3 separate regions of the Homo sapiens genome follow, and regions 1 and 3 are each reported to be linked to region 2. Evidence: microRNA targets listed by miRTarBase, many of them from high-throughput screens and not tested one by one. Region 2 holds a microRNA gene; each other region holds the end of a gene's coding sequence.

What was found. The annotated mature microRNA hsa-miR-548ac reads CAAAAACCGGCAAUUACUUUUG and lies in region 2 at 2,743-2,764, shown strand. An mRNA with a match to its seed (bases 2 to 7 or 8) in the 3' UTR can be bound and repressed. Matches are read on the target gene's strand: a 7mer-m8 pairs with bases 2 to 8, a 7mer-A1 pairs with bases 2 to 7 and ends in A, and an 8mer does both.
Region 1: the mRNA of GPC5 is a reported target of hsa-miR-548ac. The part of its 3' UTR that is shown has no 7-base or 8-base seed match.
Region 3: miRTarBase lists HDGFL2 as a target of hsa-miR-548ac. Seed matches in the 3' UTR shown: 7mer-m8 at 998-1,004 and 7mer-m8 at 1,056-1,062.

Annotation. Positions count from the first base shown.
Region 1 is chr13:92,865,670-92,870,739 of GRCh38, forward strand. It overlaps GPC5 (glypican 5), which reads left to right. Exons shown (of 8, transcript NM_004466.6): 8 at 613-1,568. The coding sequence ends at 770. Among named protein-coding and RNA genes, the nearest start is that of GPC5-AS1, 150 kb to the left of the region's middle.
Region 2 is chr1:116,557,727-116,562,801 of GRCh38, reverse strand. It overlaps MIR548AC (microRNA 548ac), which reads left to right and starts at 2,691; the gene lies at 2,691-2,778. All of the region lies in intron 1 of CD58 (CD58 molecule), which reads left to right. LOC105378925 (a long non-coding RNA gene) reads right to left here. Exons shown (of 3, transcript XR_947739.2): 3 at 1,615-5,075. RefSeq lists enhancers at 135-284, 2,884-3,123, 4,175-4,224.
Region 3 is chr19:4,501,135-4,506,204 of GRCh38, forward strand. It overlaps HDGFL2 (HDGF like 2), which reads left to right. Exons shown (of 16, transcript NM_001001520.3): 15 at 57-183; 16 at 777-1,073. The coding sequence ends at 876. It overlaps PLIN4 (perilipin 4), which reads right to left. Exons shown (of 8, transcript NM_001367868.2): 7 at 3,727-3,813; 8 at 1,058-3,651. The coding sequence ends at 3,325. Among named protein-coding and RNA genes, the nearest start is that of PLIN4, 15 kb to the right of the region's middle.

The DNA.
Region 1 (5,070 bases), not on the chromosome of region 2:
GCTAAGGATGTGAGGTGATGGATATGCTAGCCAGCTTGACTTTATCATTCCTCCTGGTATACTTGTCAAAATATCACATTGTACCCCATCAATATCTATAAAATTTGTCAAGTAAAAATGAAAATAAATTTGAAAAAGATCTTAGGCCTACTTTATTCTAATGTAAAATATGATCTGTAGAAATTCTACTTTTAAAAAATATTTTATTCAATTATATCCCCTCAACTGGTTTTATTTTCATGGGAAAAGTTTTCAGTTACTGAAGGTGATAAATCTCTGAAACAAGAACTAATCCCATACCTAGGATATATTAATTAATTAAATGTCTTCACTTACTTACCAGTGGCAGAGAAATGTTCCAAAAATTTTAAAAAGCTAAAAATCTTTTCACTTTGCTCTTATAATATTTGAGAATTTTCACACAAGAGCTTGAACTCTCCAATCTAAGTAGGACAGAAATACCTGTGTCATATTAATTATGTTAGAGTTAGGTGAACATAGAGAATGGTCCCCAAAAACAATGCTGTCCACACTTTGAGTTTAAGAGTTGTTCTAGACGTATTATGGTGAAGTGGTCATGCATCACCTGTGCTTTCTTATTTGCCTCTACAGGGATGCCAGATGATATGAACTTCAGTGATGTAAAGCAAATCCATCAAACAGACACTGGCAGTACTTTAGACACAACAGGAGCAGGATGTGCAGTGGCGACTGAATCTATGACATTCACTCTGATAAGTGTGGTGATGTTACTTCCCGGGATTTGGTAACTGAACTCTTCTGTCCTGACATACCTTACTGAAGTCTCGATTTCTTCTCTCTCTGCATATGCCTGGAATAAGAGATCCTTTTTCAATGTAACAATTATATTTATGAAAAGATATGTTACACTAACTTCTCAGAAGCCAAGCTGAAATATTCATAAAGTCCCTAAAACTCAACGTTTAAATGACACACTTTAAAAATATGTCTTTTTTCAATCTAACTGAAAACCTTCTTAACTTCTAATATATTAAATCTGAAGATGTGAAGGGCACAGAAGTGACTTTGAATAAGAAGAATTTAGTGTATCTGTAATTTTATTATCAATTCCAAGCCCCTTCCTTTCTAAATTAAAAATGTTTTCATTTGAAAGTGTATTTGCCAGACAATGAAAACAGTATGCAGTATTTCTTAAAGTATTGAAATTAGAATATCATGAAATAAATCAAAACATACAATGGCAAGTAGTATGCATGCATATTCAAGAGACTCTTCCATTTTTGCAAGCTGTAGAAGGAAATGTCTGAATGTCTATAAGTTATGGGGTAGATTCTTGAGAAGCATTTCATATAATTTCACTGAAGAACCTTGATAATTTTGACCCACTGTAACTTAGCCACTGATGAACCTTAAAGCTGAGTATTTTATTAACACCTGATTTGTATTCCATTATATTCAAAATGCATCTTTGGTATTGTGCCTCTGCTCCCATCTCTCTCTTTGCCTCATAGATTTAGCTATGTTGGGAAGCACATGCTTGCTCTAGGAATATCTCCAATAAAGCTGTTAACTATTTGGTGGAAAAATTTGAAGAATATTTGTCATTTTCTTCTGGCAAAAATGCTATTTTCACCCATTTTCAAAATATTATGTACTACTTTTTAAAGCCTGATGTTGTACAATTGGCTACCTTTGCATTTCTAAGGTTCCTATGAATATCTGCAGACATGTACAGAAAAGATGATATGCAACACTTTAGCTCTTTCCTATTTGCTCATTAATGGAGCTGCAAACCAACAGTCCCTAATTTCTCAGTTGGGATAAGTTGCCTCAATAGACACTAATAGGATATGTATATGGCTATACTTGAGGAAAAGAGAAGTTAGTTTTTATTAATAAGTATCACATCCAGTCTACAGAGAGAAAATATAATTAATACAAAGTCACAGAATAGAAAAGGGAATTGCTGACCTCAAATAAAAAAAAACAAAAAAAAATTTGAAATGACTTCTGACAAAGACGTAAACAAGACACAGCCAAATGCAAACATTAATAAGGTAAAATCCGTTTCTGCTAGTCAGGAAACAATATATGATCAAACCTTGTTCTCGCTTAAGTTCTCAATTAACAAAATGATCTAAGGATGGTTAGTTTAAATCACAACATTTTTAAGCTGCCCAATCAGGTTTTACCCTCCATTCAAACATGCCTCAGAACCGTAAGTGTTATTCTACCCATCAGTTGTGGATGCCATTTTCCTAGGCTTCCATTCCACACCTAACATTCCCTGATCCATTCAGTTAATAACTCATTTGCACTCACCTTGACACACTCCACAAATTACAAACTTAACCCTATTTTGAAAATTTTTTACTTCAACCTCAGCTCTTCATTTAAATCAGTCTTGGAAAAAAGTGATACTAAGGCACTCATTTGCTGCCCTCCAGCCCAAGTCATGATTGGCTTGCTACGGCAAAATTTCAGACCCAACTTAAGAGGAATTTAATTCTAAAGACAAACAAACTGAAGAGCATGCTTTAGCAGTCTAAGATATATGGATAAAATTAATTGACAGAAGATAATTTCAGATATGGCAAGAAATGGACAAAAGCAGAGTGGTAAAGTCAATACAAGAAATGATTATTTTTTTTTAAACTAAGTTTTACATGCTCAGATGGGTGTTATCTGCAGGTGGGCACTTTGGGGACTATATAAGCAATAATGGTGTTACTAGAGCTTAAAACACTGGGGTTTTCAGAATTTCTTTAAAAGCCTAAGGCAAAATTGTTAATATTCTCAGTAAGGATATACTTATCCATTAACACTTCCCATTCTGTGACATTTCATATCTACATAGTTTCTTATGAATTGCAAAGCTCTTTCAAATGAGAGAGAGTATCTCATTTGGACTTTCTTCGCCCCCTCAAAGATAGGCTTGATTTTCAGTCAAATAAAAACAATAATGCTGATTTTTTATATGGCTCAGAATTTGCTTCTGGAGAGTTTTTCATTAATAAGGTCTAAGAAAGTTTTGAGCAATGATACAAGTGTTGGATATGTGTCTACTTTCCAAGATTATTTAATAGATTACATCAGACTGAATGTATGTATTTAAAAATATCACACACATAGTCACATTTTATGCTGGTGTAATTTTTAAAAGAGCCATATTCTTGAATCCCGGAGTTATTTTTATGAGTTTAAGTAATCATAAAACTTCGTCTGATATTTTGCATATATTGGGGAGACTAGGTTTAGAAGCAGAACTAACATTTACTTGGCCTTTCTTTGTATACGCACCATGATAAATGCCTTGATGCACAATGTCATTTAATCTCCCCAAAAACACTGACATTTCCATTTTACCAATGAGAAAACTGAGCTTATAAATATTAGGGAATTTGACAGATGTCATACAACTAATCATAACAGAGTTAGATGGTGAGTATGATACCTTTAAATAAACTGTATACCTTTCTGGTTCAAAGATACAGTTTTGGAACAACAGCGAGGAACTACAGGTTAGCACAAAAATCATTCAGAGACTACTTAAGTCTCCAAACTAGGATTTAACAAATACAGTTGGCTATAGAATAATTGTCTAATTACCAAAATGCACATTAGTGTAGAAACATAATAAAAAGGAGAAGTGTAAACATGGACTTTTTTTAGTACCATTCATTACCCTCCCATATATTCAAACCCACTCTAAACACATCAGCCCTGAAAATAAATCAGCTGCCGAGAATGAGAAAGAAAACACAACTGTTTTAACTCTAATGGGATCATGAAGTTTATTTTAGTTTCCTTTGCAACAAAAAGGTATAAAACATTTCTTTGGCTATAGGATGGCATAAAAAAATGAAAGGAAGGAGAGGAGGAAGGAAGGAAGGAAAGGAGGGAGGAGGGAGGGAAGGAGGGAGGGAAGGAAGAAGGGAAGGAAGGGAAAGGGCATGGCAGAAAATTATTTTTTAAATCTTAGATTTGCCTTTATCCTCTATTTATTCTGTGAATAAATAATGTCTGCATGGTTACAGTACATGGTACAATAAAATAATGTCTGCATGGTTATCTTCTCACTAAAAAAGGACTGAGGTTAATAAGCTCTTTCCTCCCAACACTCAGATTTTCTGAAGTGCTCAATAATGATGCTTTGAAAAGGACTAAATTCATTTATTACTAACTGTTTGCTATCATATAAAATATTGTTTCTAACATCAGAATCCTTCAAGGACAATAAAAATGATTTTTTTCTTGAATGAATATATTCAACCTAGACGTCTCTTATTCTGAATGAGAACTTTGTTGAGCAGGCTACATCACTATTGTATTTAGTTTGCAACCTTTAATGTCATTCATATACAATTACATGGGTTATGAAAATTCAGAAATAATAATTTCTAATGTTGTTAGGTATGAATGTGAACATATCAAGTTTTTCTTTAAATGCAGATTGTTGTATACAAGTCATTTTTGATTAAAATACAGATAAAACATATTTCTCAAGTCAAAAGTCTGCTTTCCTTGCCTTTAGTAAAATTACAGAGTGACTGAATTACTGTTATAATTACTTTATGACTAGAGATCTAATCAAATATAATTCTTAAGCTATCCTTTCTGCCTCCTTGCACAGAGAAAACTGAGTAATTTCATCACAATATAATTTATATTTCCATAGCAGAAAACAATAACTTATTTGGAAGAGAGTAGAGTAGGAGTGGATGTCCATGGTTACTTTTTGGAAACATCTGATTTAAGAGACTTTTGCCTTCCTGCACTTGCCAATTCTCACACTGGAATCAACTTCATGAAAATGTGTGTGAGAAGATCACGCATCTTATTTTCCCCTTAAAATTTTACTTTGACTACATTGAAGACCAGAGTGAAAGACAATATATCAGAATTTGAAAGACCATAGAATTAAGAACAGAACGGTGAACATTTAAGGATCAAAACTGGTTGGAGACAGAAGGAATGGGACTGACTGCAGTAATAAGTAAATTCTTACTTTTATGAGTTTGATACCCACCTTTAAACATGTTGGATTGGAAGGAATGAAGACTCTTAGAAAAAAAGGGAGGTCTCTGA
Region 2 (5,075 bases):
AAGGGCAGGGCCAGGTGGAGATAATTGAATCATGAGGGCAGTTTCCTCTATACTGTTCTTGTGATAGTGAATAAGTCTCACAAGATCTGATGGTTTCATAAAGGGGAGTTCCCCTGCACACGCTCTCTCTTGCCTGCCACCATTAAGACATGACTTTGCTTCTCCTTTGCCTTCTGCCATGATTGTGAGGTTTCCCTGGCCATGTGGAACTGTGAGTCCATTGAGCCTCTTTCCTTGATAAATTACCCAGTCTCATGTATGTCATTATTAGCAGTGCGAGAATGGACTAATACACCCCATCTCTACAAAAAGTTAGCCAGGTGTGGTGGTGCACGCCTGTAGTCCCAGCTACTCAGGAGGCTGAGATGAGCCTGGCAATTGCTTGAGTCTGGGAATTTGAGGCTGCAGTGAGCCATGATGACACAACTGCATTCCAGCCTGGGTAACAGAGCAAAAAAATAAAAAATAAAAAGGTAGGAACTATTTTATTATTAACAGAGTCTGTCTTATTCTGCTGTTGTTGACATTTTACAGATCCTTTATTGCCAACTATCTGCATAACTAGATTTTAAGTTCCTTGTATGCAGAAGTCATGTATTATTTTTTAAAATTTTCCTTATATTGATCTGTTTTTTTTTAATAGTAAAGATTGTTGAATCTGAACATTAGATGACAATGTATTTGTCCAGCATTTCTCCATTTGAAATTATCTCACATTATTATGTGAGACTTGTTCATGTGCTTTGCTGGAGTTGAGACTTAGACAGTCTGTGTTTTTTTATTTAGCAAAGATAATCCAAGTTAAAATAGTGTTGTGTGTTCCTATAGGAAAACTAGGCCCAGTGTTATAACAGAGTGTAAGTAATAATAGCCACTAGGAGGTAAGTACCTGCTCTGTGCCAGGAGCTATGCTTCAGATTTGAGATGTTTTTATTTAATTGTCACACTGATTTTATTACATAGGGAACATTTAATAGGAGAACAAAGCTTAGGTAGGTTCAGTAATGTGTCCAAGTTCACACAGCAAATAAGTGGCAGAGTGAACTTGAACTTTGATTCTCTCTGAATCAGAACCTATTCCTTTATATGCTCTGTTGTATCCCTAGCCTGAGATCCACTAAGCAACTTTTTGAAGATGAGTACTACTGATTTCTTATATCCAACATGTATACATTGTCCAATGAAATTCTGCTAAAACATGGGAAATATAGGTCAGCACAATTACCAGTCATGCAAAATTGTATTTAATATCATAATTTGTAATGGTGAGGGGTGCTTCTTTGGGACATAGAATTTACAATGGCAATTTATTGACATATTTATTATTAACATTATTATATTTACATTCTCTAGGTACCCACATTTCACTCCTAGACACTTTTGCATAATCTCAATAACATCATAACATCTATAAATATTAACACTAATCCTGTAACATCACCTAACTTTTACCCGTATTCAGATTTCCCCACTTGTCACAAGAGTGTCTTTTGTTAAAAAACCCGGATCTAATCAAGTTTCACTCATTGTATTCGTTGCTATGTTTTTTTGTTTTAATTTTGATGGGCATCTTTCAGAAGTTTTAAAATAGTCTTAGAACCTCTTTTTAAGAACCAGATTTGAATAATTTATTTTATTGACCTCCTTGTCACTCTAACATTTCTTTAGTAAATACAGGCTTTGAGGGTAGGTATTGGTTTCTCTGTTTAAAAGTAGAAACTTTGCATAAATCAGCCCTTATATGTGTAAGTTTTCTGCCTTTTGGTTTCTTCTCATGCTGTTTCTGCACAAGTGCCTAAGCTTTTTTGAAGCTTTACTTGAGGGGTGACCAGAAGGTTTTACTTAAGGACACAGACCCTTAAATTCTGCAATGACAAATCTCAACTTCCATCTCAGGGTTGTAAGTGAAACCAGGATGCAGCCGTTTCTCTTTTCTCAGATAAGTTCAGGTTTGAATATAAAGTGTGACTATAAGATACAGAGACTGTCCCTAGAAAAGGAGGGGAAAACATTTTAGCAGTTCCTCTTTGGAGATAACTTTCAGTGCCTGCCCATCAGCCTCCAAGGAAAATGCTTTTTGGTTACTTTATAGGTTCTAGTGAACTTTGCTTACTTTACAATGTTCCCCAAAATGTCTGTTGAGATTAGTGCCTGAATTTCCACTGGGCTGACCAGTCTGTAGTTTCTTGAACATTTTCTTCCTATGCCAGTTAAAAATTAGAAGAAAATTGAAGTTTAACATACACATTCAGAAAAAAATAAAAAATCAGATTAATAAGAAACTAATGAGGCTGTGCCATTGTAAACTACTTGCAATAGAGTTTCCCAACGATGAACTGAGTATCTAGAAAATAACAAGGATTCTCAAGGAATTTTAGTGAAATGATCAGTACTGTATTGAAATACCTTGAATCAGACTTTGGAGAATAGATTTAAAAACACTCACAGCCTTAACCGATCTAGTAAGAACCTTATTCCCTAAAGCATACTGTGGATCTCAGCTGTATCCTATCTAAGGTGAGAACAGTCAAAGACAAATGTGGCCTTTGAGAAAGGTGGGATGTGAGTGTCTTGAAACAACAGGCTAAAGAAGTGCTCTCAAATAGAAGTATAATATGGAACATGTGAAATTAATTTTAATAATATATTTTAGTTAACCTAATATATCCATAATATTTTCATTTCGACATGTATTAGGTTGGTGCAAAAGTTATTGTGGTTTTTGCTATTTTTTTTTAATGGCAAAAACCGGCAATTACTTTTGCACTAACCTAGTAGTTACTACAAAAAAATATTAACAAGAGATTTTATGTTCCACTTTTTAATACCAGGTCTTCAGATTCTGGTGTGTATTTGATACTCAGAACACATCTCCATTTGAACTAACCATATTTCAGGTTCTCACTAGCCACTTGTAGCTGGTAGCTACTTTGATGGATTGCATAGGTCTAAAGGGAAACATCTTGAGAAAGAAGAAATAGGTTAAGTGCAAGAACAAGAATTAAAAAGGAAACTATTTTAGCATCATATTAGAAGGAAAGTACAGAAAGAAGTTGATTTAGAGAACCAACATCTTAATTCTTGATGAACTTATCGAGGAGGCAGATTGACAGCTGAGAGCAAGGTCCGGGAACCTTGCTCTGGCCTTGGGGACCGAGGGTTTGTAACCGTTGGGAGACAGGTGGCTGCAGTTTCAGTATGAAGTAGATGAGGGCAGGGAAACTGGTGGTGGTGTGGCTGAAATCAGTAAATCTCTGTCTTAAGGAAATAAGAGAAGTCACTAACTGGGACCGGCTAAGGGTGGAATCGATCAGGAAAAAAGAGGAATGGCCCCAACCAAGGCATCTGATGTTCTGGCCAACAGTGCAGGCTCTGGGGCCGACTGCCTGTGTCTGGACACCAGCTCTGCCCCTTGCTAGCTGAGTGAATGCAGTCAGCTGACCCTCTCAGTCCATTTCTTCATCTGTAGCCTGGTGCTTCGGAATCTTTGACCTTCTCTATCAACCAAGTGTCCAGCGGAGCAAACCACCTTACTTTGATAGGCGTGTTCTCAAGAAATAACTCCTTTCTCACTCTCACCCCAGATGTTCTTAGGCTCGCTCCCCTGCTTTTCTGGACTCTGCTCAGATGCCAACTTATGACTGCCCCCCATGCCATCCAACTCCTTTCCTTACCAGTACTCCTCAGCCCCCACACTCTGCTTTATTTTTCTCTATAGCACTTAACATCATCCAACATCATCCAAATAAAAGATATTTACTTTTTCATTTATTATGTTCTTCCCTCCACTGAAAAATAGACTCCAAGAGGGCTGGGATTTTGTCTGTTTTGTTCATTGCTATATCCTGCCTGCTTATTTCAGTGTCTGGCACATAGGCAGGACTCCATGAACATTTGATGAACAAATAAATGAATAATAAGAACTACCTCAGAGTTGAGTTGAGGATTAAATGAGTTAATACACAAACAGCTCTTGGAACAAGTGCTTGTCACATAGTAAGCCTGCAGTGAATCTTCGTGCTGCTGCTACTGTTAAATATTATTACTGAGGCTGAGCTGGCCTAGGGCTCCTTGGATTGGACTTGCTAAGAGCTAGGCAAGAGTCACAACTGTATGAAACTTGATTGAGTTAAAACAAACAGTGCTACTCCTCTTTATTATCTCCATGCCTGGTAAGCACATTTTCTACCCCCAAAATTGGGACTGACTAATATGAGAATATTTATGGCCTTAATAGGACAGGTTATTTGATACAATTACTAGCCTAGACATTTTAGGAGATTGGCCGCTCCTCAATACTATAAATGCATATATGGGTGTGTAGATAGAGATGTTGCTTCCCAGATTGCCACACATCCTGATACTGCAAGTAGGCATCAACTGAAAATGTGCCGTGATGTGAAGACCAAACGCAGAGAAGTGAGAGGGACAAGGCTGTGCTCAGTGACCCATATCCAGATGAGAAATCCATCTGCTCACTTGGGAGCAAAAATGCCCCAAGACCCTGCTATCTCTGGGCTTGCACGAGGCTTTAAATGAATCACCATTATGATGTCTTATATTCAGAGGGAAATACCAATATTCATATATTCAGGTACTGAAACTTTTAAGGGAATTTTTCTTTTTTCTTTCTTTTTTTTTTTTTTTTGGTCAAATGAACTTTTACTTTACCTGCTAAAATCTGCAGGCAGTGTGAGCCTTAAAATATTTTAGAGAGAGAGAGAGAAGTATCTTAAAATTACATTGTTTATTTCTAAGAACAAACTCAAGAAAACCCTTTCCTTCAAATCCCGGAAGAGTGATTAGCTTGTCTCTAAGGTATGGCATTGGCTGGGCATGGTGGCTCATGCTTGTAATCTCAGCACTTCAGAAGGCCCAGGGAGGAGGATCACTTGAGCCCACGAGTTTGAGATCAGCCTGAGCAACATAGTGAGACCTTGTTTCTACAAAAAATATAAAAATTAGCTGGGCGTGGTGGCATGCAACTGTAGTTCTAGCTACTTGGGAGGCTGAGGCAGAAGGATCACTTGAGCCCAGGAGGTTGAAGCTACAGTGAGCCACGATTGCACCACTGC
Region 3 (5,070 bases), not on the chromosome of region 2:
TCTGGGGTGCCCAGCTGGAGCCCAGCAGTGTCCTGTGACCCCTCTGTCCCACCCAGATCTCTCAGCCCCAGTGAATGGCGAGGCCACATCACAGAAGGGGGAGAGCGCAGAGGACAAGGAGCACGAGGAGGGTCGGGACTCGGAGGAGGGGCCAAGGTGTGGCTCCTCTGAAGACCTGCACGAGTGAGTGTCCCGGGCCGTGGGGTTTGGACTCCTGAGCGGCAGCGGTGTGACGCGCACCCTGGGTCCGAGCCGCTCCTCCTGTGCCAGTCCCTCTGGGATGGGTCCCAGGGATGTCGTCCTTACTCGGGCCTCCCACCTTCACAGCTGACCCCAGGGCCCCGCTGGCTGGCACTTCCGGCGGCCCCTACAGAGAGGCAGCTCCAGGGCTTTGAGCTGCCTGCCCCTGGCCTCCTGGGAAGGTGGCTTCTTGCCGAGCCTCCAGGGTGGCCCAGGTAGGTAGGCCCCGAGCACGGGCACCCGGCTATCTGACGGTGCCTGTGCCCATCACTGTGGGCTGCTGTCTGGTACAAGGCTCAGTGGAGTCACTCACTTACCCAGCAGCTGCCTTGTGCTATGCCTGGCTGGCGCCAGCGTGGGGACCCTGGAGATGGTTGTGGTCTCTAGTGGCAGAAGACAGGCAGATAGGAGGGCGGCACTCGAGCCTCAGGTGCCACAACGGGGGTACACTCCTCGGTGCCCATCCCACCCAACCGCCCTACAGGCAGGGCAGGGGCGGGAGGGCATCCTCACACCGCCTTTGCTGTTCCCACCAGCAGCGTACGGGAGGGTCCCGACCTGGACAGGCCTGGGAGCGACCGGCAGGAGCGCGAGAGGGCACGGGGGGACTCGGAGGCCCTGGACGAGGAGAGCTGAGCCGCGGGCAGCCAGGCCCAGCCCCCGCCCGAGCTCAGGCTGCCCCTCTCCTTCCCCGGCTCGCAGGAGAGCAGAGCAGAGAACTGTGGGGAACGCTGTGCTGTTTGTATTTGTTCCCTTGGGTTTTTTTTTCCTGCCTAATTTCTGTGATTTCCAACCAACATGAAATGACTATAAATGGTTTTTTAATGAAAAAAGAAATCACTTTTATTGGCTTGGTTTTCTAGCATTGCTGGTGCAGTGGGGGCCTGAGCTGGGGCGCAGGCGGCAGTGTCACTGGGCCCGTTTGGGACTGGGTTGAGCCATCAGGCCACCGTGAGAAGCGACTAAAAGGCACTCTGGGCCCAGCCCAACCCTGAAAGGCCAGTGGCAGGAGAGCTGGGCGGGAGCAAGCTCTTCCCAGGAGACAAGAGGGACAAACCAGGGCATCTAAGCTGTGCTGCCTGCGCCCTGCCCCGCACCCACGAGGCTGGGGGGTTTGATGCTTCCTGCATCTGGCAGCCCAGGGTCCAGGCAGGTGAGCAGGTCCGATGTGGGGAGGACGAGGGTCCGCGAGGCTAGGCTGGGAGGGTGGAGACCAGGCCTTCCCTGAGAGCCGCTGCTAGCCGACAGTGGTCTCCAGCGTTCAGGGAGCATGGGCCTCAGGGGCCAGCCTCGACTCACCCCAGCTGTGTCACCCACACACCGTGTGACTTTGGACAGGTTCCCCTCCCACTCGGGGCTTCTCTTTCCTCCTCTGCATAAGGGGCTGTCACGTGGGCACGGTCCCAAGCAAGTCACCCCGTGCTCCGAAGTTGCTCATTCCACAGTGGCGTCTCGTGTTTGTCGTCCTGCCCAGCGTAGCCGAGTTGCCTCCGTCCCAGTAAGAATTAGGCTGTGGTGTGGCGGGAAGGGACTTCCTGAGCTGCGGCCCCATGCTTGGTTGGCTGGACGTGAGCTGCAGTCACTGTGCCTGATTTCTGCAAATGGCTGTGTCTGGCATCCTAGCCTCCGATGGCCATGGGTGTCGGGCTGAGGAGAAGGCTTGGGAAGGCTCCTGACCCGTCCCCTCTCACGGCCCGTCACCTGAGGCAGTCCTTGCCGTGCCAGCTTCCCCGGTTCAGAGCTGAGCTGAATGCCCCGGCCCCTCACGGCCCCTGGTGCACACGGTGACCCCTGGGGCCCCTCCACCCTTCCTCCCCCTGGGTCTGGGGTTCCTGGGCTCGTGTCCTAGGAGAGCATGGAAAGGGGACGACAAGGTTCTCTTACCGGGTGAGTGGGGATATGGCTTCCTGGGGAGGCCGGGCTGAACGGCTCCTCCCCGCTGGACTGAGCGCAGCCACGGCACGTCTCACACCCGACCTGAGCCTGCCAGCCTCCACGACCTGGGCTAGCCTGAGAGCACGGGGCCCGGCGGCCGGGTCCGCCACCACCAGTGTCTCTGATGCCTGCAGCCTCCCCAGCCCCGCTTCCTCTGCAGCCCGGCGCTTGGGTGGGCCTGAGGACCCAGGGGGAGTGTGCGGCGGAGGAAGGGCTGTGCCATAGGCACGCAGCCTCTGTGGCTGTTCCCAGCCCTGTCTGATCCCTCCATAGGGCACAGTTCCCTGCGGGGAAGTCCTTTGTCTGTGTTCTCCAGGGGCAGCTGCTGGGCCCAGCCTCCCCAGGGGCCTCAGAGCCCCAGGTGCCTGGGGCAGGCCTGTGGTGGGCAGCTGGAGGCAGCAGCAGCCTGTTTGCTTGTTTTTTGCACCCCCCACCCCCTGCAAACTGCTCAGTCTCAAGCCAGGCTGGTGCAAAGCCCCAGCTGTGGCTGCTGTGGCTCCTGGCAGCTTTGTCCCCACCGTGAGGCCACCCCGGGGGTCAGCAAAGGCAGTAGCAGCCTGCCTTGGGATGATGATGGCAGTGTCGCTTTTTCTAGTACTTTCTACTATGAGGGAATGTGGTTCTTAAGACCCTCAAGGTGTGTGTGCTAAGGCCGGAGACCCACTTTCAGCATGAGAACGGAGCTGCCCGGAGCCTGGGATGCCACAGCACTGCCTGCACCGCTGATAGCTGGGGGCCCGTGCTGCAGGACTGGAAGAGCCCTGCTAGATATAAAAGGGTTGCTAGCGGGGCAAACAGATGCCCTTCCAGGCTGGGCACGCTGCTTTTTCTCTTTCCTAATTGCAGTGCTTGCTTGGGGACTTCAAGGGAAGGCTCTTGGCTGGTGGTCTGAGTGACCCCAGGCTCCGAGAGGGGCAGGCAGCGCTGGGGAGGAGGTGGGAGATGCAGGCAGGCCCGGAGCAGGGCGTGGGGTGGCTCAGTTAAGAAGGTCACTGCCTCCGCAGCCCCTCGGCGCTCAGCCAGCTGCAGCCCCAAAGGTCTAGGGCTTTAGGGAACCGATCCAGGTTTGGGGGCGGGGAGAAAGTTCTGAGGCAGCTCCTCCCTGGACAGAGCAGGGCGACCCCGCGCCGGGCCTGCAGGCTCCTACAGCTACTGCCCGCCAGCGGGCAAGGCGAAGGGCCCTACCAGCCAGCTGAGCGGGGGATTGTGCTGTAGGCCCTCCAGCAGCTGCTCTAACCCCTGCCAAGCCTGGTGCACACCCTCGCGGCTCTGCACCAGCCGCTCTGCGGGCAGCTCCTCTACAGAGCCAGCTGAGGCCACGATGCCATAGAGCTCACAGAGGCTGTGCCGCGCCCGCCCCACTGGCTGCTGGAGCTCGGCGGGCAGGCCCTGGAGGCTGGAGACCAGGCCACTGTAGGCCGTGTGCAGCTGCCGGAGAAGGCCGCAGACCCTGGACAGAACCCCGGCATCCCGCTCCTGTGGGAGGAAGGCGCAAGGTGAGTGGAGACCCATGGGCGGGGTGGGGGGACCCTAGCCCTGTGCCAGACCCACCTCCTGGACAGCAGCGTCCTCCGCACTGGCACCTGAGCCCTGGTCCAGACGTGGCTGCCCTTCTGGAGCCTGCTGGGCCTTTTCAATCTGGAGAGAGAGTACAGTGGGGAAATGATGGCTTCTTGGCAAATGACCTTTCACAACCCCCACCTCCCCCTCCCCCAGGGACCTGGGCACATTCACAGTCCTGGGAGAAAGGCCACGAGTTCCAAGTCAGTTGTACCACAGTGGGCGTGTTGTCTTGCAGAAAGAGGCAATAGTTCAAACTTCCCCATGAGGTCATCAGGGAGTGCACGTAACACAGTGTCTGTGGGGTCGTGTCACTCCTCACCCCTAAACCTGTGGCTGCCCAGTACCCTTAAGATAAAACCCAGCTCCTCACCATGGCCTTGGTGGGCTGGCCCCTGGGACACCTCTGGCCTCATCTCCCATGGCACCCCACTGCTGTCTCCACTGAGGCCACACTGGCTCCATTCTGCCCTCCGGCCACTCCAGCAGGCTTCTGCCCCAGGGCCTTTGCACACACTGCCCACTCAGCCGGGAGCCTGCTTCCCGGGCCCTTCACAAGGTCCGCGTTCGGCCTCAGCTCCAGGTGACCCTTGGTGAGACCTTCCTGGCCCATGGTGTGGCAGCCCCAGTCCCTCCCGTCACATCTGCCCCTCTCCTCGGGAGCACAGCGTGCGGCTTTGGTGTTCATTGACTTGGTGTTTATCCGCCCCTGGCAGGGGAACACTCAGGACTCTGTCCTCGTTGTTGCTGTGTCCCCAGCACGTGGCACCCACGCCCCACCCTGTCCACAGGGCCCCATCTTCCTCATCATCTCAATGGCTGGTAGGGATGCGGCACGCCGTCAAAATATCGACTCCAGACTGCTGTCGCCCTCCCAGCCCTCGCCGCGCCAGTGCTGGAGACCTGAAGCCAGCTGCATATGCAGACGCGTCCCCTCGGTGCCCACCAGGCATCTCCCCTCACCCTGTCCAAGGCCAGGCTCCTAATATCCACTCTGCAACCCGCCCGGCCTCCCCTCAGCCCCCCTGCTCTCCTTGTCTGCTCAGGTTACAAGCCTCAGGGGTCTCTTGGGGTCTTCTCTCACCTCCCACATCGGACCCGGGCAGCTCTGACTTCGAAACACCCAGAGCCCAGCTACTTCTCACCACCACAGCGTGACTCCTGAGGCCCGGCAGCACTTGCCTGGGTTTACGTCCCACTGTCTCCTCTGGCCCTCGCCCCCACCCGGTGGCCTGACCTCCCCCATCAGAGTGATCCTTTTAAATGAAACCCACCTTGGATCAGGCCGCTCCTCTGCCCAGAGCCCTCCAGGGCTCCCAACTCCCTTGGGGTCGA